Linked DNA regions of Homo sapiens: region 2 is linked to region 1. A link means that fine-mapping ties the variant in region 1 to the expression of a gene that starts in the linked region. Tissue or cell type: T cells. Region 1 holds a variant in brackets; the other region holds the start of a gene. All regions are shown on one strand. Distances are between the middles of the regions.

The links. PIP is the estimated chance that this variant, and not a neighbour inherited with it, causes the effect. A credible set is the group of variants that fine-mapping cannot tell apart.
Region 2: it holds the start of AKAP6, and the variant in region 1 is the best candidate, but not a certain one, in a credible set for the expression of AKAP6 in T cells (TOPMed, PIP 0.65).

The regions. Positions count from the first base shown.
Region 1 is chr14:32,222,100-32,227,488 of GRCh38, forward strand. No RefSeq gene overlaps it. Among named protein-coding and RNA genes, the nearest start is that of RNU6-8, 22 kb to the left of the region's middle. The variant C/T (reference allele first, on the strand shown) is at 2,118.
Region 2 is chr14:32,326,149-32,331,537 of GRCh38, forward strand. It overlaps AKAP6 (A-kinase anchoring protein 6), which reads left to right and starts at 3,150. Exons shown (of 14, transcript NM_004274.5): 1 at 3,150-3,260. RefSeq lists an enhancer at 5,115-5,389.

The DNA of each region.
Region 1 (5,389 bases):
TGAATGGGAAGCTGTTTTCAGCTAGTCACAGAGCAAATGCTGTAGTCTATATATGCCTCCCATGATTACCATAAAGAAAATATCAAACATGGGCTGTCGAATACAGGAGAGCAGTGGTGGATACAATTCCTGGAGAATTAGATGGGCATGGGCCCTGACATTATGGAATTTACCAAATTACCTGTAAAATAGAATCTCAGGTATCTGTTTCCACTTAGACTACAGAAATCAAATGTAGAGATGTGAATGCTATTGGTACTGTGGGGGAGATGGAGAAATTATGCATAAGAACTAGGGAGCAAAGAGTGTGTTCTTATGACCGCCACGTTTAGAGAGCAGAAAGGGGAAGTTTGTAGGTAGATTACAGGTTCTGTAATGAGGATGGAATTCGAGTCCCACCAGAAAGTAAAGTTTTCATGAATGTGCCATTTGAGATGTTGAAAACCTAGAGTCTGGAAGAACTTTCGCACACTGTGTTCGTGTTTTATTCTATATCTGTTCCCATTCGTTTCTACTTTTCTATCTATATAAGCCTCAATTCCTTCTTTCCTACCCCTACCATTTTACCACCTACTCACAGTAATCCTTCCTCATCATCATCAAAAGAAATTCTGCAATCTACCTCTTCTAAGGTAACTTTCCCATCCACTGGAAAAAAAAAATGAGTTCTTGTAATGCAGGCTTTGTGTGCTTTAAATACATCATCTTATTTCACAGTCCCCACAATTCCAAGAAATAGTACTATGAAGGATCTTTCAGGAAATCTCCAAGTGATGTTTAAAATCAGGTGTTTAAAGCCAGGCCCCCCTGGGGGGCCTGACTATATAAAAGTGTTTCCACCTCACAGGAACAGAGGCTACTAGCAAATCATGACCACCATTTTAAACCAGGTTGACAAAGGTCACTGCAGAAAATCCTGGAAGATCCACTCTCACTAATGGAAAATGAATAACTTTTAGGCTTTGCTTAGGCTCTTTTAAATAAACGCATCTAAGAGTCAGGTTTGAATCAATGGGTGTAAGTAGTAAGTCAGGGAATGTTGGCACCTTTCTAGGTAAGTAGAATGAAGTAATATTCTTTGCTGAGGAGGAGAGGGGTTGAAATTGCTGTATTGTTGAATCCATTGAACATATATTGGAAGACATGGAAGACTGACCAATTTATTTCATAGTAGTGGACCTGAGCTGGCTAATTTGCAGTAAACTTTGTTATTCAGACACTATTTTCTAGCTCAAGACAGATGGAATCTTTGATCTGAAATATTTTGCTGTGCTCAGAGAGCCCATAGCCAAGGTATAGCCAGGCATGGTGAGTTTTCATTTACTAGAAGTCACTCTGATGGAATTGTGTAATCCAAAGCATCAGATTCAGGGAAAGATGGGGGCATTGAGAGAGCATAGAGATCCCAGGGGCTATTTTTATTTTTTTTTATTTTATTTTTTTTTCCCAGGGGCTATTTTTATATGTCTTTGGAGACAGAGTCTCACTTTGTTGCCCAGGCTGGTTGGAGTGCAGTGGTGCGATCTTGGCTCACTACAACCTCTGACTCCCAGGCTCAGGGAATCCTTCCCACCTCAGCCTCCCGAGTACCTGGGACTACAGACACATACCACCATGCCTGGCTGATTTTTGTATTTTTTGTAGAGCCAGGGTTTTGCCATGTTGCCCAGGCTGGTCTCAAACTCCTAGGCTTAAGCCATCTGCCTGCCTCAGCCTCCCAAAGTGCTGGGATTACAGTTATGAGCCTCCATGCCCCTCCATGGGCTATTTTTCAGAGTGTTAGAAGATGACTAGTAGCATGTGGGCATAGGGAATGGGAGCGAACCATCTTCTCTAAAAGGCTGATGGGAGAAATTAGTTCTTACTGACCAAATGATCAAGTCAGAGACTCATAGAGCTTCAGTGATGGATGGAGCTTTAGCAAACAACTCCCTAATTGTGCAGATGAGAAACTGAGGCTCCAAGAGATTTGTCCAAGGCCACTTGGGAATAGACAGAGTAGAATTCCAAACCATATCTTCAGAGTCTAACTTTATGCCATACTATGTGAAATTGCGTTTATTTTTTCAAGGTTTCTAGTTCAGTCCTGCATTTGATATGGCCAAATGAGTCTTGTG[C/T]TTTGTTTTCTTAAGAAAGAAAATATTATTTTCTTGTTAGCAGTCATACCAGAAGCTCACAAGTGGTTTACACACCAGATAATAAACTCCTATTCGTGGTCTGAGAGAAAGGTTGAAAAAAATTTATGTAAAATATAAAAGGTAAAAAACATAAATATCCCAACCCATTAGTGGATCCAGTTCTTATTAACATTCCTTTTTCCTGCTACATCTCTTTATTTTTATGATGTCTTTGGGCTTCCCAGAGTGAACGATGATTTGTCTTGAACAAAATAGAATTGTTCTTGAATCCTGCTGGTGTAAACGGTAATCTAAATAAATGGAAATAGATATAAGTCCCAGGAGTAAATCAGACTGCTTGCTTAAAAAAGCAAGCACATAAGTCAATATTTTTTTTCTGATAGTAAGAAAAATTCACAGAGCTGAAACTCTATCTCCTTACCCACATGTAGACCTTACTCAAGCTATTTTTTCATTTATTTATTTGTAGAAAGATAGGTTTTCTCTTTTCTTCCTTCTCTTTATTATCACTAATTTTTGGGAGAGGTCTTTGGTAAGTTGAAAACTGACACACTTTTGCACATGAAAGGGGGCATTACTGATTATGCTGCTACAAAGTTATGGGACTGTCAGATCAGAACATTTAGTCACAGACTATACCTATACATCCTCCCGGACCTCATGGACATAACTGAGAGGTTAGGCCTTTGCTCATTCAAAAACAGTTATTCAAGCACAGATGCATCTGCCACTGCATTAGGCACTGAGAATGTAAAGCCGACAGCTTCTATGTTAGTACCATATGAGCTATTCTTTCTTCAGCCTAGACTTTCATAACATGGAAAAGTAAGGCAAAACCTTCAGAGCCGAGTCCACCAGTTATGATTCTGCTTAGCAGGGCTTGTGCATATATGGCTTCCACCTGGTCTTGCCCCCCTGGTGGTGGCTGCACACGCTGAAGCATGATGAGTCAGAGCCGTGTGATTTTGTTCTGCCTCTGCCCTGCATAGGCTGGTTTTAATCAAACGAAAGCCTAATCCTGTAGTGAATCTTATTAAGCCCTTTGCCCTTCCCCATTCCATCTGTTACATGTCTCAATTTCTGTCCCCCAAATGGAATAAGCTGTGTTTTTTTTCTCAGATTTTTTTTTTTCTTTTTGTGTTTGATGTCTTTCAGAGATAGGCCTGGAGTCAACAATTACAATCAAGCTGAATTGAGTCTGGCAGAGGATTTTCAGTATCCCAAGTTACTTTCAATGCTCCACTTGTCTTATCAGCAAAGCCTCTTATTTTCAAATCTAGTATACTGGGAAGCTCTGCAGTTGGTTTCACAGGCTTTCCTGCCAGGACCACAATTACTGTCTCCCCAGGGTTTAAATACTGACAGAGCCTTGGGGCATGCAGTTATGGTGCCATTTTCTTGGATCAATAGGTATATGTCCTTCCTAGCCCTGCTATAGAACTCAGGTAACTGCTGGCAGGTGGATCACAGTCTTGCCTTAGTGGGTCTTTCTTATCTTTTTGATCTATTGCCTAGTTTGTCTTACTAACCGTATCATTCACACACATCATAACCAACTTAATTTGAAAATAGGCCTCCAGGTCTCTGTCCAGGGAATAGCAAAAGAGTACAGACAAATCTTCCCCAAGGCACATATTTCTGTTTATTGTAGTTTCTCTTCTTGACAGGTAAGAAGAGATAAGGTTTTACTCTAGAGGAATGAAAAATACATAAAAGGTGTTGATGATATGGCAAGTTCCAAATTTGGTTCTCTTTCAGCAATCACAGCCCCTGACATCTGGACTCTCTTCCTCTCTTGTTTTCTATTGGTGTTAATGCCTGTTTCTTTCCTTTGTAAGGTTCCTTGAGGGGAGTGTTCTTGTGTCTCTGTCATCTTTAAAGCTCTTCCTCATGCTGGTGCTAAGTACATTGTTTTCCACAGATAAGATAATTGAATGTTTCTAAACTCAGTACATATCTTTGGTCTGTAAATCAGTAGTTCCTTTATTTGATGCTTCCTTATACTGAAAGACTCACTGAAAGGTTCTTAGATGGAATGCAGTATAACCACTTGAGTGTTAACCACTCAAATGTCCTTTGAGCAATAAGGCCTTGCCAGAAAGTCTGGAAAATATGAAAGTCACTCCATGTGCAGTTCTGTGGGGTTTTTCTGTTACCCTCGGAGCAGAATCTTCAGTCCTCTAAAGATGCAGGTAAAACATGGAATTGGTGCCACATCTAATCTTTTCACTGTCATGCTTACTGCTGTTGCTAATATATACACACAACCCCACTTTGCAATGGATGGTAGGAAAGGTATCTTAGACCCAGGAACACTCAGCCAAACTGGGGCCTGGGACCTGCCTTAACAGGAGCATCTGACAACCTGGGTTGTTGGCTCCCAAATCAAATTAGGCTAGTATGTGTCCCATCGTGAACTGGATGGGGATCAATCAGGACTAACAAAAAGCAAAGAAAATAAGACGTAGGACAATTTGCCACTTGATTCTACATTCTATTCCTAATAAGTTAGTGTTTCAACCCAGCTGTAGCTTGCTTTCTACCCTATTTGACACTTTCATATTGTTTCTCTCTATTAATAGTCATTGGGCTTCTTGTCAGCTTGGGATTATTATGTTTCATTACTGTTTCTGGATAAAACTCCGGTTGCTGGGAATTCTATTTGTGTTGTGTTTGAGAGCAATACAAATTTCTGCTTCACTGATGGAGATGGTGAGAGATGGGCCATTATGAACAAATGAAGATAGTGCAGCATTAGGGAACTTCAAATGAGTTTCCAAGTACATAAGATATATGCAAAAATGTATTATAGCCACTTTCTCTATTTGGAAAGTCAACTCCCTCTTTTTTAGGTCTGGGTGTTAAGAAACTTGAGATAGTATTTCATGTATTTATGTAGTGAAAGCCATGAATTTGGTGGGCAAAGAGGTGTCATAAAGGACCAAGTCTGCATGGACATGCAGTGTCCCTGCACAAAGCCCATCTCTAGTCACCCAAGTATGTGCCCCTTCCCTCAGTCAGTCAGGAGGAAGGGGAGACTTTTTGTTATTTGCCCAGAGTGGTTGCCTTTTTTCAACGGTAGTAATATTAAGCCTACCAAGAAGAAGGAAAACTACCACCAAGATCTTTGTCTCCATTATCAAGGCACATTCCCGAATCAGCAAAGACACAGAATACAGCCCTTTGATTCCAGATAGGTGGTCTTTGCCTAGCTCCATCATTTTGTTCTGTCATGAGGAGCAATTCAGGAA
Region 2 (5,389 bases), 100 kb after region 1:
CCATTGTGGAAGACAGTGTGGCGATTCCTCAAGGATCTAGAACCAGAAATAGTATTTGACCTAGCAATCCCATTACTGGGTATATACCCAAAGGATTATAAATCATTCTACTATAAAGACACATGCACATGTATGTTTATTGCAGCACTATTTACAATAGCAAAGACTTGGAACCAACCCAAATGCCCATCGATGATAGTCTGGATAAAGAAAATGTTGCACATGTACACCATGGAATACTATGCAGCCATAAAAAAGAATGAAGCTGGAAGCCATCATTCTCATCAGACTAACACAGGAACAGGAAATCAAACACTGCATGTTATCACTCATAAATGGGATTTGAACAATGAGACCACATGGACACAGGGAGGGGAACACCATACACCAGGGCCCTTCGGGGGGTTGTGGGCAAGGTGAGGGAGAGCATTAGGACAAATAGCGAATTCATGCAGGGCTTACAGCCTAGATGATGGGTTGATAGGTGCAGCAAACCACCATGGCACATGTATACCTATGTAACAAACCTGCATGTTCTGCACATGTATCCCAGGACTTAAAGTAATATAAAATAAAAAAAGAAAGTCTGCAATAAAGGAACATGTTTTTAACACTGTCACTTTATCATAAATAATGATATATAATATAATCTTGTTAGAAAATTTATATTTTATTAAATTATAATTTTATCTATAAATGGATAATTTGTTCAGAATAAACTACCCCAAAATCTTGGTGGTGTTTGTTTCTCACTCATTGCAGCCCAGTGTAGGTCAATAGGTAGTTGGGAGAGGATGGTTGAGCTCCATGCAGTCATTCAGGGACCCAGGCTCCATCCACAATGTGTGGCCATTATCTTTCTGGGCTTCAGAGTTCCACTGGATTCTTTGCATCCAGCTAGCAGGACAGGAAAACATGAAGAAGAGACACTTGGTCTTAGCCACCTTTGGAGTTGATGGTTTCCACTTCTACTTCCGTTTCATTGGTGAGTGCCATTTTGTGGGCAAGCAATTTAGCTAGTCCAGGTTGCTAAAAGTTTGACCTGGCCTCAGGTTTGATGAGCCATCCATTTCTTCCCATCAAATGATTGACTTGCTTCTGGCAAAAAAGATTAACAAGATTCTTACCATCTTGAGAAGCCATATTCAAATCTGGAACACCTGCTCCCACCCTGTCCTCTCCTCTTTATAGCATGTGGATTTCAGCTCTGGAAAGACTAATCTTGTTCTGTAATAGGTCCATGTCTCTTTATCTTCTCCAGAGACTGAAGGGTTCTTCAGAGGTATCTTAAAGAGTCAGCTTACAGCAAATGAGGTTGGAGGCAGTGGTTGAGAATGGCTCATCAGTCTGGGCTCTGGGCTTCTTATCTTGCCTCAACCAAGGCAGTCCAGCTTTGATCTGTATCATTAAAAGAAAGGTTATATTACTAATGAAAAACCTGAAAACTATGGTTATTAGCTAAATCAATCATCTCTGCAGATGAAAAACTTGAGGCCCCAAGAAGTTAATCAATTGGCCTGATATCACACAGATGCTCTAGGAGGACCTGACATTTACAGTTGGGTTTCCTGACTCTCAGATCTGTACTCTTTGTACTGGGGTAGCTGCCTGCTACTTCTCCCCTTGTGTGTGGCATGTGGTCTGAGGTCTAAGATAAAGGGAGGGAGTCAGGCTCTGCTGATGCCACAAAGGACCTAAGCAGGCAGATTCACCTCCTGCTTTTGGTCTCTTAATTCCTCTCTAGATGAAGCAAGAACAAGTCTGTCTTCCCATCTAGGGCAGGGTTGCTCTGTGCGAGGCTGATGGTGCACGCTGCTGGGATATTGGCACTTCTCAGGCATTTTATTAGCTCCTGTTTACAGAGACACTGCCTGAATTCCTTCTGCCACTCATCCCACACCGCCTATGCTGGTGGTTAACAGTGCCATTTTAAAATCTCAAGCAGGAGGAGACAACATAATTGTCTCATGTTTTAAGCTTTTGGAATGTTGTTCTTTTTCAGAGTTGTGAAGACGGAGTGGATACAGGTCAACTTGATTCTGCTTTTCTCTATCAATGGCCTGCAAATATTAAATATGCAAAACATAGGCTGCTCTGTCCATATCTCCTTCTCCCCAGTTCTCACCACATGACGTTGATTTCTGCTCAGGACTGGAAAGAAGTGATTGCTTTAGATTTGCTTTTCTTTTACCAACTGGAGAAATGCCTTACCGTGTCTTGTTTAAATGTGGCTTTTCACACAGTTCCAGCTTTTGGGGTTGGGGAGGGGCACAAATAATCTGTGTGGTAGGCAGTTTTATTGTTCAGAAAAGAAGAAAACAGACCCCAATGTTTGGAATGCCAACGATTTAGGAAGTTTCTAGCAGGTCTGCTACTTGTTCCAACCACTAGGTTTGATCCCAGAAAAGACTCACATGCGTTTTGGCCATGAGAAGGAGGGGTTCCCTGCAGGCCAAAGGAAGGGTCAGTAGAAGTTGAGGGTGGTGTGTTGTGCCCCTCTAGATTCCAAACTTCCCTTTGCTGCCTATCTGATGACCAGGTGAAAGCTGGGTTTATTCTGCATGGGAAGGTTCTGTGGGTTGGTGTTCATCAGGGAAAATAACCAGGACAGACTTCATTGGCCAAGGGTTTGCCCATGTTTTGAGAATTAAAACTTGTTTACTTGAGAGTTAGAGTCATTTGGTCAGCTGTTTATATTCCATTTTTAATTATTTTTGTGCTCGCTGTTTTGTTCTTTTGGTCTTTGACAGATGAGCAAAAATTCTTTTTAATAACTTTTAAAAAGCTATCCCAGTGCTGACCAGGGAGGAAAAAGTGATCAAATTGTCTAATAAGGAAACATTGTACATTTCAGTTTTTATTTGCTTAGTACTAATTCTATTTTCTCCTCCCACCTTTTTTTTCTAAATGTATAACAACAAAGGGGGAGATAATTTTTGTTTTTTCCAAAATGCTTTCAGGGAAATCCCTTTTAAACCTATGGATTTTAGTCCAATGAGGAATCCTCTTCCTTTGGTCTAAATTTTGCATATCGTCTGTTTCTTACAGGGCTTCCGTATTGTCTCAGGCTCCACTGGAAATGCAGCAAGGATTCCTAGCACATCCCAGTTGCCATAGCAACAGCAGTCTTTCCCATAATGAGCTGCATCATCTGAACTGATGTCACAGCATCATGCAGCAGGTCAAACAAGGCATCTCCTAGTATTGCATCCTACAGATGTGCTGTAAACATCAAAAGAAGACGGTGGGATCAGGAGATGGTGAGTGTTAAATGTCTGGGCCTTAATTGCACGGCTGTTTTGTTGGTTAGTCGGTGTCTGCTAAGGCGGAGATTGGGGGATGTTGTCTCTGCTTAAAATGGACTGGGGAAAGAAGGGCTGTTTTACCTAAATCGTTTTTCAGGCTGCCGGGTTAAGACAAAGGCCTGTAAGAGTCATATAGGAATTAAAATATGTAGAATTATTCTTGCTCCAGCTCTGTCTGTTATTTTTAAGTGTTCTTACAGAATTTTTCATAAACATAAGATGATTTTTCAATTGCAAAACCCCAGATAAGCTTTAAAATGAGTAGTTAACAGTATTTAAGCATTGTAAAAATATAGATTTCTTTTTGGGAGGCAGAGCTAATTGGCCCCCTCTTTGCTCTTGTGAATTATGAAATATTCAGTGATTTGCAGTATGAAATTCATTATTTACCTCGGTTGGGTTTCAGTTTCTTCATGGCAAGGAACAAATGCTGAATAAGCATTTGACATAACCCTGATGTGAAAGGGGATCTCTTGCATATTCAAGACAGAATTTATTAAAAGCATAAAAACCTAAACCAAATGAAATTATTTGAGCCTTTTGATCTATATGGTAGTTCTTCAACCCATGTCCTTCAGAGTTAGTTGAAAGACTGCCACATATTTTTCCATCTCTAGCTAGTCTCTGAAATAGCTGGAGTTGTTTGCAGGCTGACTTGTAACTGAGAAAGGAACAAGTCTCCTCTCTGCGGCAGTTGCAGTGAAGGGTAACCCTGGGAGAGCCTCTGAAGTGGCAGTGGTGTTGCCATCCCTTGCTTAACTTTAACAAAAATCTGGGTATGATGAATAAATATCAGGGTCCTCAGTGGTTGTAGGGATTACAGACCTCTGGACTCAGTCATAACCTCAACTCAATTCCAAAACTCTAAACACGTATCATTTTCATTTCAACTCCTAGCTCTGTTTTTAGGCATCTTTATTATTATTATTATTTTCTAAAAAATTAGTCTGACAGTGTCAGATAAGGAGCAGAATGTTGCCTTTTGTTTTGGGAAATGAAATGGATTTCCCTGGTACAGCTGATTGCTACTAGGGGAGAGAAAGGAGGAGGCACATGTCAGTTCAATTGATCAATATGTCCACTTAGAATCAGGGAGTGGTCTTGTGGCTTAATGCTGCCAAATTGATAGTTTTTACTCAAAAAGTCTTACACGAAAGAATGGCAACCATTGAATTCCTCTTCTTTTAGTCTGTTTATTGGGGCTAAAGAGATATATCATGGAAAGCAGGAAAAGCAATACCTTTAGCTAGCTTGGAGTGATTTTTTTTTTTTTTTTTTTTTTTTTTTTTTGCACAGAGTTAAGTATGCTAGTCCCATTAGGCACCAGCCAGAGGAAAGGCCTCAGGTTTTAATTTGTTTGTTTATACCACATCACGCACATGCTTGCTACTCTCAGTCCTTTAAGCTTATGTTTCTGACATGCAGCTGTATAGGATGGGAGAGGTCAGCTCAGCCTGGCTTTATCGCAAGCACTTAGAAGCATGAATTGTTCATTGCCTGCTTTTTTATGTCATATAATGTGAGCAGAAAGCTCTGCTGGGACTGCTGGGTGTGAACACATCTAAGTCGAAAGCTCTAAGGTGACAGGGAAGAGTGCTAGATGGTGATGGGGGAAGGGAAAGTATGTCTTGTAGCTAGATTATAAATCTGGATAAAATCACTTAGTGCCTTTTAGAATTTTCTTAAAGTATTATTTCTGAAGAAGAGCAATGAAGAAAGACTTGTTTGGTAACATGAATTTCTAGGAGTAAAAAAAAGCAAAAGGCAGCATTGTAATGAGTTTTCTGTTTGCTTAATTCTTGTCTCTTTTGTTTAAAGTGCTCTTCAGCTGCTTCATCATGGTTGATTTGTTCAATTACTGGAAGTCACAAAAGCTAGATTCCTTAAGGGCAGTGTTAGAAAAAGTGGAGTCATGCTTTGAGGGTGGGGAAGGGCGCTGGTGGGTGTGGACTGACGCAGTTATCTAGTGGAACATCCTCCCGGTTCAGACAACCCTGTAATTTTTCCCCCCGCAAATGTTCAAAATGCAATTACAGTTCTCCAACTTTATGCTTTTGTGCTCTTTTTGCTCCAGGAGAACAAAG